2 separate regions of the Homo sapiens genome follow, and region 2 is linked to region 1. Evidence: fine-mapped QTL for protein levels in blood plasma. A gene starts in region 1. The other region holds a variant in brackets. All regions are shown on one strand. Distances are from middle to middle.

Region 1 (8,641 bases):
GAGCCTGAAGGAGAAGTCTGGGATGGGGCCCGGGCCAGGATTCGGCAAGAGACCTCAGGCTGAGCCCAGAGCTGAGCACCAATGGGGTGTGGGGTTGGGTAGGGAGGAGTGGGGTGCAGATTGTGAGCAAAGTCAGAATTCTTAAATGAAAGGAGCTGGTTCAGGTCCCCCTGCCTCTGGGGAGTTCCCTGACTGGTGAAAATAAGGCCTATTCTGAAAATGCTTAGAAAAGATCCAATGCAGGGGATGAATACGCTACAGGCACTGTGTGGGGGAAGGGTAGGAGCTGGGGAATAAGGATGAAATGGGACTTGGTGCCAGCACAGCAGGCTTCCTGGAAGCAGTGGCTTTGTGGGAGGGGAAGGCCCAAGATAGCCTGTGTCACAGATGGCCCTGGCTTTCAGGCTGGCACCTTTAGTGACCTGCAGTGAGGTCCTTCATCCATGAGGGACTCTGGCCCACCTTTCTCTGCCTCCTGGTGAGAGTGCCTCTAACTTGTAACCCACCCGGAATGGCAGTCCTGTGCTCCCTCGGCATGTCCCCCAGGCTGGGGCACAATATCACAATGGACCAGGAAATCCTTCCTCGCCTCTAATTCTGTTTCTCCTGCTGCAAACAATGTGGGCATCACTCATCCAAGCAGCTACTGGGCAACTGTACTAGCGGCTCCCAGGGGCTGTTAGTCAAAGCCTTCACTGAACCAGGACCTTTTAAAGTTTCTTATTTTGAGAATTTTCACATATACCAAAGAGTATAGCAAAATAAACATCCATATACTCCTCACTCCAGTTTAGCAAACGTGACTATTTCGAAGTCATTGGAAGCACAGAAGAACCTGGCAAAGTGTTCCCTTGGAGCTAAGACCTCCTCCACACCTGCCCTGTGCCCTCGCCACGCCTCTGGACTTAAAAGTGGAGGTGGAGGGATTACTCACAGCACTGGAGCAGCACCAGGACCACAAAGCCTGAAGAGAAATCCAGGATGAGACCCCTGCAAGTGCATCCTGCCCTTCCGCCCTGCTCCCTCCCCCAAGCAACTGAGACCCACCTCCCCCACCCCCACCTCCTGGTTGCAGCCTCAGTCCCTCCCCTGGCTCTGCTTCTCCTCCCCCTCTGCCCACTCCCTTAGTCCCTCACCCAGCAGGCAGATGGCTCTGCGGGCTGTCTGGGCCTGAAAACCCACAACTCTGATGGATTAACCTTGGCTAGCCCAGATACCTGTTTGAGACGCCTTCACACCCATTCTGGCTGCAGCAGAGCAGGGCAGGGTGTGGCCTCTTCCCTTGCCCACGGCTCCTGGTGCCAGCTACCTAGACAGGGCCTCTTCCCCAGGCCCTGTACTTCCTTTATATACCTGTCCCACTCCACTCCCCGACGCGGCAAACCAGCCCTTTTATGGGAACTGAGCTATGTGTCAATGAAGGAATCACGAGGCTGGCAAGTGGAGGCGGGGGAGTACTATGGATTACCAGAGGAGGGTTGAGAAACCGCAGAGTTTTGAAAACTTTGGGTCAGGTCTTCATGAGGCACCTGCCAGCAGAAGAGCCACTAGGGTGATGATGGGGGGCTTCTGGAGATGTGACTCAGCCGCATTTCCCAGCCTTCCTCCCACTCCTGCACCCCACCACTGGCCTTTCTTGCCAGCAATTTCCTGGCTTTTCTGGCAGCCTCTACCTTTGCATCTTCAGCATTCACTCCAGGCCCCTGGCCAGGTGGAAACTGGGCACAATTTAGTTACGTAAGCCACAGTGCCCTAAACAAGGCTGTTGTTTTCTTCCCAGGCTCAGCATTGCCCTGCTTGACCTACCTTCCTACCCTCCCCCTCACACTTTCTGTCTTCAGGCTGGGTAAGGGCCAGAGAGCCTCGGGAGGAAGGAAAGCAAAGAGCCTGAAACTGAGCGCTCCCTTTTGGGCCCGTGTCTTTTTTTTTTTTTTTTTTTTTTTTTTTGCAATTTACATGCTGATTATTTAGAGGGAAAGACAGGGAAATTCCCAAGAATGCTTTAAGCCCCGGTGCTATTTTGCTTCTGTTTTGAAATTCCCATAAAGAGAGAGGATCTTTTGCAAGCTCGGTGCTGCAGTGAGGCACCATGGAGGAAATACAGGCCCTACGGGGCGGCTGCACGAGCATCTGACATCAGTCAGCTCCCCAACTCTCTCAGTGAGGCTTTGGAACCCAAGCCTGATGATACAGCCCCTCTCTAAATCCTTCAGTGATCTCTCATCACTCCTAGGACAAGAACAAAACTTCTTAACGAGGCTCCCTGCCTGATTACGTCCCTGTTTGTGGATACATTTTTTTTTTGGCCAAATATCCAGGACAACTCCATTCTTTGCAGGCTTAACATTAATTAATAGGCAGTGAGTGAAAAGTTCAGAACTCCAAGAGGCAGAATGGGTCCAAGGGCTTCTCAAGAAAGTACCTTTATTTTTCACTAATGTTAGGTAATACTCTAATTTTTCCAGGCTGGTTTTGCAGCTCTCTCGGTGAGGTCTCTCTGCTCTCTCCCTCTTCTCTCCCTCTCTCCCTTTCTCTTCCTTTAAAACTCAGCCAGTGCCTTCCCTTCATTGTAAGAGAGGTGGACAAAAAGTGGCTTGTCCAGAATCACGCTCGGTGAATACTAAAGAGGCATCACTTTTCCTTTTTAAGATGACTGCCTCCTTTTGTACCCAAGATGATTGACAGCAATGACAGTCAATGATAGCTTCTTCTGGTTCATTTGGGGCACTGAGAGGAGGACTTCTAATTTCTAATAGTGATATTATGAAGTGGCATGCAGATGCAAAATTTTTCATCACAGAGCACAGGATGTTAAGAAAACACCTCCTATTTTCACTATCTCCCTTTGTTAAAAATTATTTCATAGGCTTAGATTGGCCCAAGCCTTGTTGTCCTATGCTCCCTCAAGCTCAGTTTATTAATTCCACATGCTCTGCCTGAAGGCAGCTTTGTAACAACAAATGGCCAAGATACCCCCAGGCCTGTGTTAGCAGGATTGGCCAAGGGTCTCATAGGCTCACCACCTCCCAGCCTTATCTCAGGCCATGACCCCCACCCTCCCTATATTCCACTCATGCTTATATGTCTTCTTTTAAATCCTTATATTTGCTCTACTGACTCCCGCCACAGGGCCTTTATATATGACATCCACTTGCCTGTAAATAACGATGAAAGATCTGAGATTTTATGCTACTTGCAAATTAATGACATAACTACAGTTTCGTGGATGTTGGCAGAAGACACGAGACTCCTAGGTCAGAGACAAAGGACTTTATTATCCATGGTACAGCAAGCAGCATGAACTTCATGTTAGGGTCAGTTCCCCTTAGCCCTCAGGTCTCACAAGGGCAGTGTTGGAGGAGCCCAGGTAGATGCCATGAATGCAATGAGTTACATCACAGCAGAGGAATCCCTAGTTTAAGGAACTCAAATCTTTCATGATGAGCAGTAAGCCTTCCTCACCTTGGCCAGCCCAAGATAAGGGAGACATTATCTTTATTACTGGACAGTAAACAAATCTGCCTTTTGGTCTGGAGGGGGGACGCTATTTCTATCTTCCAAGGCTGTTTGCTGTACAAACATCACTAAAAAGATTGCCTAGAACAAAGAAGCCAGTGCCTCTGCACATAAGCTGTGCAGGAAATGCAGGCAACCCATGGAGAATTGCGGTTGGAGAATTGCGGATGGAGAATTGCAGCCTAACACTGCTCTTCTTTGACTGCTTTATTCTTCCTCATCCTTCAGATTGCAGCTCAGGAGTCACCTTGTCTGCAGAAAAGGCAGTCTCCAGGTGACAGAAAACCCGCTATAGGGCTGTCAGAGCACTTTGTACCTCTCTCCTTAACACCTGACTCAGTTATAATTTTATATGTTGTGTGTGGCAGTGGATGTTTTGTTTGCCTCTCTCACTAGACTATAAACTCAGTAAAGGCAACGGCTGGGTCATTTTATCCACCTTTGTATCTATCCCCAGTGCTTGAGACATAGTAGATGCTCAGTAAAGTACTCGTTGAATAAATGAACAAATGATCTCAAAATGGTGCATAACTTCACACTCTTATGAGTTTAAACCCTGATGTTCTCAAAATTTCATCTCATTCAATAGTTTTTGTTACCCTGTGAAGAACTGACTCAGGAGGTGCCATAAAACCACAAAACAAGCTTCCTGACTTAATTTCCCTAATCAAACATTTCTAGGCCCCACAGTACATTGATAGTGTTCAACCAATGTTTATTAAGTAAGTGTACTAGAGTAGTTGCCTTCCACTGAGGTAGACAGTAGAGACAGAAAGGTGAATGGGAACAGAGAGGCAGTCCCTGTCCTCATGAAGCATACAGTCTGGCAAAGAAGATGGACATTAAACAAAGAAAAGCAAGTAATGTATTACGAAGGAAGGGCAGGTGTTAGTCTGCCCCTTGCCCACCGTCCCCTACACACAAAAAAAATTGTGCAAAAACCTGGAGCAGGAAGAGGTTGTTATGTTCAGGAACCAGAAGAATTCAAGAGTGGTTGAGGCATGGAATTAGCAGGAGGGAGCTCGAGGGAGGCACAAGATGAGTCTGGATCAGGAGCCAGAGGGTGGACATTACCACCATTCAGAAAACAAGCTCCTGGGAGCCTGGGCTGGCCCCTTGGGCACAGTGGTTTTGAGGATTCCTTCATTTTGCATGGCGTGTCAGAGCAAACAGAGGTGGTGTTGATGCCCCACCAAATGCTTGAGGAGAATTCTCTCTTTTACAAGTAGTCTCTTCCTCCAGAGGGTGGACTTCTGCCAGGCAGGAATTCAAATCATCTCCAAATCCTCAGCTCGGTGGTGGTGCTGGCGCACAGTAGAAGCTGTCGAAGACTCAGAGGCAGAAACACTTAGAGAAGAAAACAGTTGCTTGTGAAAAGCGGAAGCGAGTCAGATTTCAGAATGGCTGGCTCGTCAAATGCAAAATGCAACAAGTATTTGAAGGGGAAAAAAAAATGACCCAAGGTTATCACGTTTGGTGGAGATCAGCATCATTTTTACAACACATCTTCACTTATCAGCATAGCAAAAATCAGGGATGAAATTGTTTTTTTCGGGGAATTTTTTTTCTTTTTGAGACAGAGTCTCACTCTGTCACCCAGGCTGGAGTGCAGTGGCGTGATCTGGGCTCACTGCAGCTTCGACCTTCTGGGCTCAAGCCATCCTCCTGCCTCAGCCTCCCAAAGTGTTGGGATCAATGGCGTGTGCAACCACACCCAGCTGGGAATCCAAATTTATGGGAAATAGCCAAGGCTTATTATTTTGGTGTCTTAAACCACTCAGGATAACCTATTATTCTTGGCTTATCTCCAGATGCAAATTATTCCCATCCCCACCCCGCAGTGGTACTTGGTCATGAATGAAGCCAGTAGAGTGAAGAGTTGGGCTTTGCGTCTACGGATTTTCCTTCCTTGTGGGCAAGTCCTTGCCATTGAGGCATGGGTTGAACCGTATATGTTGCTTAATAACTTCCTGATGCAGCATCATCAAATTGATATTTTGTTTTATTTGACCAAAATTTATTTCTATTGACATAACAGGAGGTGTTGATGAAATAAATACTTTCTTTTTGTATGGCTAGCGAAACCAGAGCCACATGATAGTGATGCTTTACAGTGAGCTTCTGTCTGGAGGCTTTGTAAAGCCCCTAGGGCTGGGAAGAAATTACTTTTATGTGTGAAGTATTATATCAGCACCATTTTCTCTAAGATTCCCATATGTGTTAATATTCCTAGACTGCCAGGAAATGTAGGTTTTATTTATTTATTTATTTATTTATTTATTTATTTATTTTACTACCTCTAAGGCTGCAATGTCATCAGTTCTAAAGCCATACCAGAGTTTTCTAGAGGACTTCATAGGTGTCATTTCCACATGTAAAATGTAGTCTTTATTCCTTAATAGTGGCTTATCATATAACAAAAATTCTTTGCTTGGCCAAATTTCAGGCGGGCTTCTGAATCTTCTCCTAGGCCCATCTGTGCACTTCCTTGTAAAATCCAGTTTTAGCAAAGAGCCCTGCTAAGTCAATTTAGCAAGAACCCCCTACCCTCAACATCTGAATACCTTGACATCTGACCAGGTTCCTTGTCCTTTATCATGCCCCAGGGGATGTCTGACCACCCTGGCCTGTCTGCAGCAAGAATCCTGTTAAGTCTGTTTAGCCAGAATCCCCCTTACTCCTGTTTCCTCTTAGTAACTTCTGTCTACAGACCCCCTGGTCCTTAGCTACTGATTTCCACTTGCCCATGCTGTATTTAGAGTTGAGCCCAATCTCTCCCCCCAACTGCAAGACCCCATTGCCCTGGTTCCTGTACCTGTCATAATGATCTTGGATAAAGACATCCTTACATACTTCAACAAGTGGCATTGGATAATTTTTTTCTTTAACACATACCTAATTAAATGGAATTTTGGCATGGTCAGTATCCAATTATTTTCTGGTAAGAAAAAGGACAGATTCTCATTGGATCTATATAAATAACATGATCATAAACATTCATTCTATCTAGAAGTGAATAAGCTATATTAATTTGGTTCCAATTTTCCCCCTCAAATGTATAACATAGGATATTTGATCATAAAAAGTAAAGGAACTTGTAAAAGCATGGGTAAGAGGAGAAAACATAAACTGTGCTTGTTCTGTTCTCTCACTCAACACAATGACCACCATCAACACAGGAGACTTCTGCCACCAAATGTGTGGGTCTCTCCCCATCACCAAGCAAGCATTTGCAATGGACACCAGCTGGGTGTCCTCCAGTTCAATTCTGATGCTCTCGGCCTGCAGAGAGCATCAGATCCCACAGGTTGAGGGCTCATTCCTACAAGACTGCCGCCCCTTCAGGCATCAACCACAAGTCTGGGCCTCTGGAACTTTTGACTGACCAGCTTCAAGTTGGGGTTCCCACATTCACCTCTTTAGGTTTAATTTGTTAGAGAGGTTCACAGAACTCAGGGAAACACATTTACCGGTGCATTATAAAAGATATTACAAAGTACACAGATGCTGAGATACACAGGGCGAGGTATGGGGAAGGGGCTTGGAGCGTCCATGCCCTCCTTGGGGGTGCCGCTCTCCAGGAACCTCCACATGCTCAGCTACCTGGAAGTGCTCTGTACCCAGTCATCGTGGGCCTTTATGGAGACTTCACTGGGTAGTCATGATTGACAACCATGTAGAAATGTGATTGGACAAGAAGGGTGTGGTCTAATACTAATAGACGCAATAGGGAAACCCAGCAAGGGCTGTCTGTTCAGATTCTTATTGGCCTCTATGCAGCATTCCTTCTTTCAGGGAACTGGGCAAGACTCTCTTTTGAAACAGGGGTCTTATGACCTACAATCCGACAAGGTAGGTCAGGGGATTTCTTTATGACCAGAGAAGGGGAAAGGTTAGAGTATATTTTTATTGTCTAAGGCCTGCTTCTGAGGCCTAAGACATCCCAACATTAAACACAAGATTGTTACAAGGGCTGCGGGAGTTATGAGTACTGTTCTGTAGACAAGTCCGATCAATACAGGTCATTATAATCTGATCAGGCTGTACAGTGAACTTCTGTCCGGAGGCTTTGTAAAGCCCTTAGGGCTAGGAAGAAATTGCTTTTATGTGTGAAGTATTATATCAGTGCTATTTTCTTTAAGATTGCCATGTTTGTTAATATTCCTAGCCTGCCAGGAAATGCAGGGTTTTTTTCTTCTTTTAAAATTGTCCTGATGATATATTAGTTTATAATCTATATTAAGATTTCCCATGGGATTTTTTTTCCTTTTGAAATTTGAAAGTTCAAGTGGGACTAAGTGACATTTAAGGAGTGCGCCCATGTGCTGTACGTATAAAAACCAACACTGGATTTGAAGACATAGGTTGGAAAAAAAAAAGGTTAGCTATCTCATTAATAATTTATAGATTGACTACATGTTGAAATGTTAATATTGTGGGTATATTGGGTCAAATAAAATATATTATTAAAATCTTTTTAAAAAGAGTGCCTTACTCCAGTATGTGTAGGTATAATATGTTAAATTGAAAATGAGAGATAGAGTAAGCAGATTTTTTTCTGATATTAATTAAAATATAATATCGATCATAATGAAACCAACACTTATTTCACTTAGTCCTAGGTAATTCATTTTTGTTTTGTTGGTCTTGGGTTAGGTAGACCAAACTTTCTTCTATAAAATTGTATGCTTTCTGATCAGCTGCTCTCACTCTCTATGCAACTACTCAACATGGCCCTTGTAGCAGGAAAGCAGCCGTGAGAATACTGACCCAAGGAGCATGACTGTGTTCCAATAAAACTTTATTTAAGGCCGGGCGCGGTGGCTCAAGCCTGTAATTCCAGCACTTTGGGAGGCCGAGACAGGCGGATCACGAGGTCAGGAGATCAAGACCATCCTGGCTAACACGGTGAAACCCCGTCTCTACTAAAAATACAAAAAATTAGCCGGGCGTGGTGGCGGGCGCCTGTAGTCCCCGCTACTCGCGAGGCTGAGGGAGGAGAATGGCGCGAACCCGGGGGGCGGAGCTTGCAGTGAGCTGAGATCACGCCACTGCGCTCCAGCCTGGGCGACAGAGCAAGACTCCATCTCAAAAACAAAAAACAAACAAACAAACAAACAAAAAA
Region 2 (10,679 bases), 10 kb after region 1:
GGCTATTTTTTTTTTTTTTTGTATTTTTATTAGAGGCAGGGTTTTGCCGTGTTGGCCAGGCTAGTCTTGAACTCCTCCTGGCCTCAAGTGCTCAACCCACGTCAGCCTCCCAAAGTGCTGGGCTTACAGGAGTGAGCCACCACGCCTGGCCTAATTAATTTTTGAGACAGGGTCTCATTCTGATGCCTGGCCGGAGTGCAGTGACACAATCACCGTTCACAGCACCCTCAACCTCCCAGGCTCAAGCGATCCTCTCAACTCAGCCTCCTGACTGGCTGGGATTACAGATGCACAGCCCCCTGCCTGGATAATTTTTAAAACATTTTTTTGTAGAGAGAGGATCTCACTATGTTACCCAGACTAGTCTTGAACTCCTGAGCTCAAGCGATCCTCCTGCCTCAGCCTCCTAAAGTGCTGGGATTACAGGCGTGAGCCACTGCAACCAGCATCATTTAGTTATTTAAAGAAATTAATGAAAGCTGATTTTCCTTTTATCTTAGCTATAGGAATTTTACCTTTGTAGCTATCAATAGCTATTTGGACCATAATAACTTTAAAAGCCAGAACTTAGGGTTGAGGAAGGAAGCTCTGAGCTTGGAATGAAAAGAACCTACTGACACCAACATGAAACACATACCACAGAGAATTCCAAAAGTCACAGAGACTCCAAACAACTTCTTCAACCTTGTATTCTCAAACTCCAAGAAATCTCAAAATCCTTGGACAAACACATTCACCAGAAAATACTACGAGGGGAGTCAGATTCCAGAAACCCTGTCTGCTGCACCTGACAGAAATCATGTCATGGTCAGGCCATAGCAGCATCAAACCTAGATTCCACTCCTGCTGCTACCAATGTGGACACAATTGGCCATGCACCATCAGAACCAGAACCAGAAACAGACTTGGCAAGAATCAATTTAGCTCTATTGTCGCACAGAAGACATTTCAGAGGAGCCAGAGGAGGGTGGGCTGCAGATCAGATCCAAGGGGTAAGGTACACTGTGAGCTCTACCTGTCTGCCTGCTCCCTTGGTAGGAGCCAGGCAGCCAATAGCTTTGTAGAAACTCCAGGAATAAGCTGTCAAAGGAGGACCAGAGACTAATACATTTAGAAAAGAGAAGAAAATAATGAACACTTCAAATCAACTCTTCTAGCTATTTTGAAATATACAATAAATTATTGTTAGCTACAAAAAAAAAAAAAAAGAGAGAGAGAGAAGTAAACAAACTTTCAGTTGCAAAGAGTGGAAGGGAGTAAGCTTTCAAACAAAACTGGCTCATCAAATACAAAGCACAAATGTTTAAAGGAAAAAGTCCCAAATGGCCTAGATGACCGTGTTTACATTGGTACCATTTCTTCATGGTGGAAAACAGCAACTTTCTCACATGGTCATCAGAGTCACAGCGTATCCTCAGACTTCAGCAGAGCAAAAGTCAGGGATCAAATGGTTTTTCTTAGGAAGGCCAAGTTTCTGGGAAATAGTCAAGGCTTATTTTGGGGACCAGAACCAGTCAGGGCGACCCTGTTGGTTTTTTTTTCCTGCCATGGTATGTGAAGTGCTTAGTCATGTTGGAAACAGGGCAGAGTGTCAGCAATGCTCAACACACATTTGTTAAACTAAACTGAACTGAAGTTGACAGTCCCTCATAGGCCCATGAAAACCTGGTCTCTCTGGAGAAGCCACATGAAGATAATAGAAAAGTGATGTACAAGGGTCCCCTTAGCCAGCCTGAAATCAGTTTCCTGGTTAGCAGACAGGGTGGAATGTGGCGCTGTGCACCATTTCTGCCTGGATGTGGGACAGCTGTGTTCAGGCGGCCTCTCCTGTAAGGGAGCAGTGGCTCCCAGGGTCTGTGCTTTCTGGCACACGACACCCATGGGCAGGGGACTGGGAGTGAAAGCAGGGTAAGGAACCACTCTAGAAGTCGGGGCCAGCAGTCTTCACCCCTCTGAAGGTGCCTGGAGCAGCCATGTGTGTATTTATTTTCTGGACCCTGGTTTTGGCCCATCTTGTTAAAGAAGTGATGGCCACTCAAGCCGATCTGGGTGTCCCCCATCCCAGGGATTGACCGGCTTGCTTCTGCCTTCACAGTGTACTCCCCATTCTGGTGCCCACTCCTCACTTCAGTGATTCCTCTTTCTATTCCAGACTCATCTTCTGGAACCTTCCCTCTTTCACAGGCTCACATCTAATTGCTCTATCCTCTGACTGTGTTCTTACAACCACTGGGTCTGTGAGCTTGGGGAACACCTGTGTCTATGGTGGTGTTTTAGTGCCCATGTGTCTCATCTTACCTCTCAGACTGGAAGCTCCCTGAAGGCAGGACTATCTCTTTTCCATCTGCCACACACTTTAGGATCTCCCTGAAGGTAGGGGCTCTCGTCTCCTTTTCTTTTCAGATCTGGTGCCTCCTGAGGGCAGGGTTTGTGTCTCTTTCTGCTGGACTTCCCCATAGCCATGCTTGGGTAAGGGCCTGACTCTCTCAACAGATCTCTCACACCCAAGGACCCAGGTCTCTAACACATCTCTCTGGATGGTGATTGTGATTTGAAACCACTGTTTTGAGGGATGCTTTGCACTTATCCATAGGGCATGCAAAAGGTGTTCTTAGTGATGTCTTGTTGACAATCTTAAACTCCAATCCACTGGATGATCCTCCTTCTCCTCTCCCTTCAGTATCCAGAAGTAAGTGGAGGTTAGTGAAACACACACACACACACACACACACACACACTCCTTCTCCATACATTCTAAATGTCATCTACAAATGTACACCTCTAACCTCTCTAAATAGCCCTGTTCACCATAAACAACCATCCTCTCCTTGGAGTTGTTTTTGATGCCAGGAGAAAAGAAACACTGGCAATGTACAAAGCCAGAGCCCAGGTGACCCCAACCCCACGTGGTGCTGTGGTAGAATCAGAAAAAGTCCCCAACCCCCATTCAGCTCTGCCACTTGCTGACCTTTTTAGCATGACTCAGCCCCCTTGAGCCTCAGCTCCTCACAGGATTGTGGTAAGAATTCAGTGAGGTATGCATGTGAGGGTCTGGCACGGAGCAGATGCTCTGAGGAGGCCGGTTCTCCTTCTCCAACCCCACCTTCATTTCTGGCTCTCCCATGAGATTTCCACCCTCTGCAGTTGAGATGATCCTGTGGCTCCCCCACTAAACACTGAATTTGGAAAACGCATACAGCAGAGCTACATGGATCCCTTTTGCCAGAATGGAGATGGGTCAGATAGCAGTTATAACTCCCTTTAAGAGCCTTCAACATTAAAACAGGCAACTAGCCTGGGCGTGGTGGCTCATGCCTATAATCCCAGCATTTTGGGAGGCCAAGGCAGGCAGATCACCTGAGGTCAGGAGTTCGAGACCAGCCTAGCCAACATGGTGAAACCCCGTCTCTACTAAAAAGACTCAGGTGTGGTGGCATGCACCTGTAATCCCAGCTATTTGGGAGACTGAGGCAGAAGAACCCCTTGAACCCAGGAGGCAGAGGTTGCAGTGAGCTGAGATCTTGCCATTGCACTCCAGCCTGGGTGAGAGAGCAAGACCCTGTTTCAAAGAAAACAGGCAAATAAAGCTATCTTCAGACTCTCCATCCTTAGGAGTACTTAGGGGACCAGGCCTCATCCTTAGGCGACCGGGCCCTTTGGCCTGCGATGAGATGAGAAGGTCCTTCCTGAAGCCTGGAGATGGATGCGATTTGAGAACAGCTTATGTGGTAAGGAGGCTGTGGTAGAGAGAATAATGGCTCCCCAAAGATGTCCATGTCTTAGACCCCAGAGCCTGGAAACATGTAACCACACATGGCAAAAGAGACTTTGAAGATGTATCTAAGTTAAGAGTCTTAGTTGGGGAGGTTATTTTGGATTATCTGGGTGGGCCCAATATAATCACAGAGGTCCTTATGAGCGGATGATGGAGGGTCAGACACAGAAAAGGGGATGTGACAAGGGCAGCAGAGGTAGGAGTGATGTGCTCTGAAGATGAAGGAAGGAGCCACGAGCCAAGGGATGCGGGCAGCTTCTAGAAGGTTAGAAAGGCAGGGAAATAGATTCTGCTCTGGAGACTCCAGAAGGAACACAGCCCTGTGGACATCTTGATTTTAGCTTTATCAAACTTATTTTAGGCTTGTAACCTCAAAAAACTGTAAGACATTAAATATGTGCTGTCTTAAGCCATTATAATTTGTGGTAATTAGTTATAGCGGCCACAGAAAACTAATACAGAGATTGTTTTCTCCATTGACAATGAGGAAGCAGAGAGCAGGTGACCTTTCCAAGTCACTTGGCTGCTAAATACAGAGCCTGTACTGGAGCCCAGTCTCTAGGCTTCCTTTGACCAGGCATGGCCCAAGGCAAACCTGAGTGCAGGGAGTGTGAGGACATGCCTGAAAGTGACCTTTCTCCTGCTAGGCAAGGGCCTGGAGGAGGTGAAACCTGCGTGGTCTTCAATGCCCCTGACATTTGAAAGAAAGTGCCAGCTCCTCAATAAAAACATGCTCGAGGCAGACCTACCCAGGTTGGCACTGGATGAAGACCTCCCTGGTGGGGAGAAAGAAGCAGCTGGATTGCATGATCCCTACCCTGTCCCTCGGATTCACCAAGATGCACATTTCCCTTGAGAGGTTGTAGCCAAGGTGGTCTCAGGGGCACTGGTCACCCCTTAACACTCTGGCCCAGGAGGTGGCACAGTCCTCCCCCTGAAAAGCAGAGCCTGAGCCAAGGCATTCAGATAAGACTCAGGGGAGGCTTGAGGGTGAGGCAGGGGAAGTGCACGCTTTGAGGTGGGTCCTGGACAGTCAGACGTTCAAGCTATGCTCGACTCCTGATTCCATACGGAGGGCGCCATCTGTTTAGGGACCCCTGTTGAAAGATGCACCCCTGCTCCCAAGTCGGGGCCCTCTTCCATCTCCCTAAGGCTAGTCTTCTGAGCTCTGGTTTCCAATAAAGATACAACCTTTCCCCAGGGATTGGAGCTGGGCACCTCCTCTTTGTGGAGACAGAGCTCTCTATCTACAGACATGACCTGACTCATCACTCAGGCCACAGCTGAACCGAGAGAATATAACAGTCCCCCAACATCCACATCACTTCCACACTTCCACTGTTTGGGTAAAGCATTACATTACTCTCTGGAGCCCAGAGTCTTTTGGCTGAAAGACTAATTCACTCCATTATTCATCCTGAGGGGCAAGGGAGACTTGCTATGGGTGCCAAGTGCCCAACACATGCTATTCCAGTCACAACCCGCCCTGCCGAATGCTGGAATGGAGGTGTTGGCCTTATCCCTCTCAGTAGGTGAGCAAACGGAAGCTGAGAGAGGATCAGTGCTTTGCCCAAAGTCGTGCACATTTTATGTGGTTGAGCAAGACTTGAACTGAATTCAGCTCTTTCAACACTGAGTGCG[A/G]GGGTTGTTTAAGTAAGGCTGCCCTCATGGGATAAAAGGAGAGTGGGAGGAAAAAGAGAGAGAGCCAATATTGTAAGAAAATTCATGAAACACAGTGGGACAATAGGACAGAACAGTTGAAACTGGGACTGTCCTAGATAGCTGGTATAGATCTTGCCAAGAAAGGAAGTCAGAAGCTAACTATAGACTGAGGACCACGGGTGTAAGAACACGGTCAGTCCCTGGATTCTGCCACTTCTCCTTGTTGGTAATTTTCCATTCTCCCCACTGCTCCCCTGCAATGACTAGCACATAAACCCTGAAACTGAAAGGGACAGCTAGGAAGCAGATAGCCAGTCTTTGTCCAGTTCTGCAGCTATTTTAGGGAGAGAAAGAAACTCAACAATATGGTGTTTATGAGGAAAGTTTTGAGAAAACGTAAAAATAAGCGGAAAGGAGAGTGAATCTTTGGTGGCTTAGAAGGATAAACTAAAGAGCTCACAGGAGTCTGCCAGGGACTAAGGGCAGCATGTGTTCATTCTTTCAGGAAAGAGTTACTGAGCCCCTATTAGGTGCCAAGTCCTGGGCTAGGGTGGGGAGAGTGAGGAGTGGAACCTCCTTTAGTTAGGACAGTCAGGGAGGCTTCTCCGAGGAGGTGATCTTAAGCAGAAATCTGAGGGATGAGAGGGAGTCAGCTACCTCAAGAAGAGAGAAAATGATCCAGGCAGAGAACACCATATGCAAAGTCCTGGAGGTGAGAAAGAGCTTAGTGTGTTGGAAAAAAAAAAAGAGAAAAGCACAAGCAAGCTGACCAGCTGGCTAGAGTAGTTTGGGGATGTGGGGAGAGACAAGAGGCCCCGGGGAGAGAGGCAGGTCTGTGTCCTGGGGCCTGTGGAAACCACAGAGGGGTTTTGTCCTCTGTGCAATGGGACACCACTGGATGTTTAAGCAGGTAGTCCAGGATAGAGTTTATGTTTTGGAAAGTCACTCTAGTGGCTCTGTAGGGAATAGATTTGTGGTATGGCAAGAGTGGAAGAGGCATGAACATAAGCAGCTGTTAAAGAGGTCCAGGCAAGAGATGCGGTGGCCTGCCCTGGGCTGGGGACGTGGAGGTGGAAAGAAGGGTGGACTATGGACATTCCTTGGAGGGAACATCCGCACACTTACAGATGAGTTGGATGTAAAAGGATGAGGGAATAGAGGGACCAGGAACCACCCAGGGGGTCCTACCTTTAGCAAGGTGGACAAGGTTGTGCTAATTGTTTAATGTGAGGAATTCATGGGGTGGAGATAAGTTTTAGAGTAGGGGGTCTGTCTCAGCCATATTAAAGAACTGTTTATGCCTTATCTGGGTAGAGAGAGCAAGCGGGCTGGTGGATACATGCATCTGGAGCTTGGAGGAGAGGTCTAGGCTGCGGATACAGTCATTGGTGTCAAGATGCTATTTAAAGCCATGGGAACGGATGAGTTCACGTAGAGCAAGAAGGGCAGAAGCCCATGCCTGAGCCCTGAGGCATCCTGACATTTAGAGATCAGGTGGTGGAAGAGACCCAGAAGGTACAACGGCAACTATATCATTCAGCCCGACATCCACAGGCCCTGCAGGTTCAGCCCCAGTCTGCCAGGTGCTAGGGCCAGCAGAGGAGGGGGACAGGGCCCTTGCCCTCAATGGGCCCAGGGTCTATGTAGAAGGCAGTTGTTGAGCCAATACTTACAATATAATATGGTAAAGATGGGCCCAGGAGAAGGAACTAGAAGAAATGACTGTGGTCCCAGGTCCCAGAAGCTAGGGCTATGACTGAGTCTGGGAGGGGCCATGGGCCTCAGAAAGATGGAGAGAAAAGTTGCAGAGGGCCAGGCGCGGTGGCTCATGCCTGTAATCCTGGCACTTTGGGAGGCCAAGGCAGGCAAATCACGACATCAAGAGATCAAGACCATCCTGGCCAACATGGTGAAACCCCGTCTCTATTAAAAATACAAAAATTAGCTGGGTATGGTGGTCGGTGCCTGTAATCCCAGCTACTTGGGAGGCTGAGGCAGGAGAATCGCTTGAACCTGGGAGGCAGAGATTGCAGTGAGCCGAGATTTCGCCACTGCACTGCAGCCTGGGCGACAGAGCAAGATTCTGTCGAAAAATAAAAAAGAAAAGAGGCAGAGGCTGGGAACTATTCCAGGTCTGGCATCCTTCCCTGAGACCTCCAAGTCCCCTTGAAGCTTGTTGCCCATCCTTCCCTTCCGCTCGCCGCCAGCCTCCCACCCCACCTCCTAGTCCGCCTCCAGTTTCTCCACACTGCCCGATCTTCTTCCAGCAGAGCCCCTACCGCTCATGAGTAACAACATGGAGCCCTGCTCATTCCTCATTCCCATTCCTACCCCAGGCCTCCAGGTCTCCACCCCTTCCCTGACAGGCCAGCCTTCTCAGGAGATGTGTTTTCTACAACTAGGATTAACTTGACAGGAAAATGACCACAGCCTGAAGCCTTGCCCTCCATCAGGGAGGGATGCTGTCTCCAAAACAGTTGCTTCATTTCCTGCTGTTGAGAAATCATGCCTGTTGACCAGCTTACATTTCACATTACTAAGAAAGGAGAGAAATCTGCCCTGCTGAACTTCTTAGACAGAAACTTGGTTAACCCCCTGGGTTTGTGGGTGAGGGTCCTGCACGAACCCCCTTCCCTCCTGTCAGCTGCAAGTGCAGCGGCTGGGCTGCTGGTTTACATTGCTGCCTGGGTCATGGTGCCCACTCAGTTCGCTCTCTCCCATGGCTATGTGCAGTCCACAAACCTGGACCGTTTGGCCTCAGCCTCTCTCCATCCTTATCCCCTCCTGCCTCCCGGGTCTTCGCGTGCCTGGTCCAGTCTGGACACACCCTGGCCCTCAATCTGAGGTCATGGCTCTGAGTCTCATGGCTGACTGCCTGAGACTGCAGTGAGGTCTGAACCCTCATTCAAAACTCGATCTCAGTTCTGTTGTTTCTTTACGTTAGGGTCCCCACAGATCATCCAACCAGAGGAAATTTCCTCTGAACATATTTAATTTGTTCTTTTTTAATTGTTTATGACTCATTTAATCTTGAATTATAATACTTTGTGGGCATGCCTTATCCCCTCTCTTCTAGACTCTATAAACTCCAGAAGCTCAGGCCTTGAATCTGGAGTCAAATCTCATTTATCTTCATCCACAGTCTCAGCCAAGAGCTTGGACATGCTTGTGGAATGGATGAGTTTTGATTAGAATTGTAGAAGGAGAATTTGAGCTGATTGATATGGGAAATGCAACCTAGGGATTGATTTGTTGGTTCTGTACAAAAAAGTACCACTAACAGCTAGGAGCAGAGTCTATAAAGGGGATAGAGAGCAGTTCATTTATTCACTCGTTCATTCAACAAACACATATTAAGCATCTACTATTTGCCAGAAGTAGTATTAGATTCCGGAGATATAGTAACAAACAAGGCTGATAAAGTCCTGGTCACATGGAGTTTCTCTTCTAGCTCAGAAAGACGGATAGTCAACAGCAAACAAACAAACAAACAAAAAACAAAACAAAACAAAAAACACCGCGCAGCAGTAAGTGCCATGATAATAAACAATTTGGAGTGATGTGAGAGAGTGACAGGGAGGTGGTTGAAAGGACTCTCTGAAGAAGTGATGCTTAAGGGGAGACCTGAAGGGTAAGCTGGGCTGCTATGGGAAGATCTGGGCATGGAAAACCAAGCCCAGGAAGCAAGAATAGATCAGACCAAGTTTTGAGGTCAGGGCAGGTGGGGAATAGAGATGGGACGAGTTTAATGGGTTCAGAAAACAGAAAGAAGGAAAGAGTAGCTGGATCATTTGTTCATTGCCTCATGGTGATCAAGGGGGCAATGAACAAAGATAATCAACAGTTCAATAGGAAGATAATGGCAAGGTAGACAATACAAATGGTATAGTATCAACAGCAGAAGCTTTGATCTGCGGATGAATTGGAGTCCTGGCCAATTGTTATGGTGTGTGAGCTTGGGCAACTTTTCTAGGTCTTACTTTTCTCAAGCCTAGTTTTTAGAGTTCTTGCAAAGATGAAATGGTATAATAGAAATGAGCATCTACCAAATGACTTTGTGTAAATGGTAGCCTACAATCCAGGTAATAATCTGAAAACCAGCCTTACAAGATCAGGGTTGACCAGAAGCATGGAGCAGAAAGTAATGACCCAGCAGCTGGGCCTAACGAGCCCTCCTTGCTGCTCCTAACCTCATCACCCTCTTTCCCTCTCCTTTCCACTGGCCTGCCCTTTCCTGCCCTTCACGTTTTCCTTATTTTTCTCTAGTCTTTCTCCTTTTCCTACCACAATTTCTCACTCTTTCTTTCCTTTACATTCTTTTAAGTCACACCATCTCAACTGCCTTCAATTTGGAAAACATATTCTAACATATTGATCATGTTTATTTTGCATGGTTTTGTCTTCCTTTAAAAATCAGGTGTTCTGAATGTTTTATACATCTTTCCTAATTAAAAAGAAACAGCAGCAGCCACATCAAACTTCAGTAATTTTATACAGTGATGTGGCCCTTGTATGATTATGATTTTCCACTGAGGTCACTGCCCCTTAATAGAAAATGGCTCCCACCACTGGATTAAGGGATTAGAAAGAGATTGTCTCAAGGCATTTAGGGTCTGGTGTGCTGGGAGATCTCTCCACTGGCAGGGAGGGGAGGTCTGGATGTGTTCAAAGGTCAGTGGCCTCTGAGTCACTGCAGGGATGCTCTGGAGCACAGCCTGGGCATCTGGCTCCACCGCTGGCTGGCTGAAGCTCAGTGGTTGCTGCAGATGTGGAACCCGAAAGGTGGAAGGGCAGGGAAGGCCTGTGGGGTCAGCTAGTGCAGACTGAGATCCTGAGGAATCTGTAAGGACAGGCTCTGGTGTGAAGTGCAATGTAAGACACCCTCCCTCCCATTGTTCCAGGCCCCTGTGCTTGGCCAAGAAAGGACAAGTTTCCTCTGCAAGCATGCGTGTTGCACAAGGGTGGGGTGTGTGTGTGCGTCTGCTCGTGCACATGCATACACGTGTGTCAGGAGGAGGAAGCCATAGAGCAAGTCCCCCATGTTTAGCTCAGGATGATATTGCAAGGAGTCTTCTGGATGGGGGATCAGGGTGAAGAAGTGATGCTTGATGCCAAGTGGAGACTCTGACCCTCCCTTGCTTTCCTTATTTTCTGAGAAGAGGTACCCAGTGGCTGGCAGTGGCCAGCTGTGGCCAGTAGGTCATCTAGTCCAACCTGCCGACTGTACAATGGGACACAGAGG

Evidence for each region. PIP is the chance, under the fine-mapping model, that this variant and not a neighbour inherited with it causes the effect. Protein levels are from antibody-based Olink assays in UK Biobank. Linkage for the fine-mapping came from a reference panel and not from the study's own genotypes, which makes the PIPs less certain.
Region 2: its variant is fine-mapped to the plasma level of the CHI3L1 protein (UK Biobank, PIP above 0.99).

The regions. Positions count from the first base shown.
Region 1 is chr1:203,185,382-203,194,022 of GRCh38, forward strand. CHI3L1 (chitinase 3 like 1) reads right to left here and starts at 1,323. Exons shown (of 10, transcript NM_001276.4): 1 at 1,218-1,323; 2 at 935-964; 3 at 1-4. The coding sequence starts at 1,242.
Region 2 is chr1:203,194,847-203,205,525 of GRCh38, forward strand. No RefSeq gene overlaps it. Among named protein-coding and RNA genes, the nearest start is that of CHI3L1, 13 kb to the left of the region's middle. The variant A/G (reference allele first, on the strand shown) is at 5,417.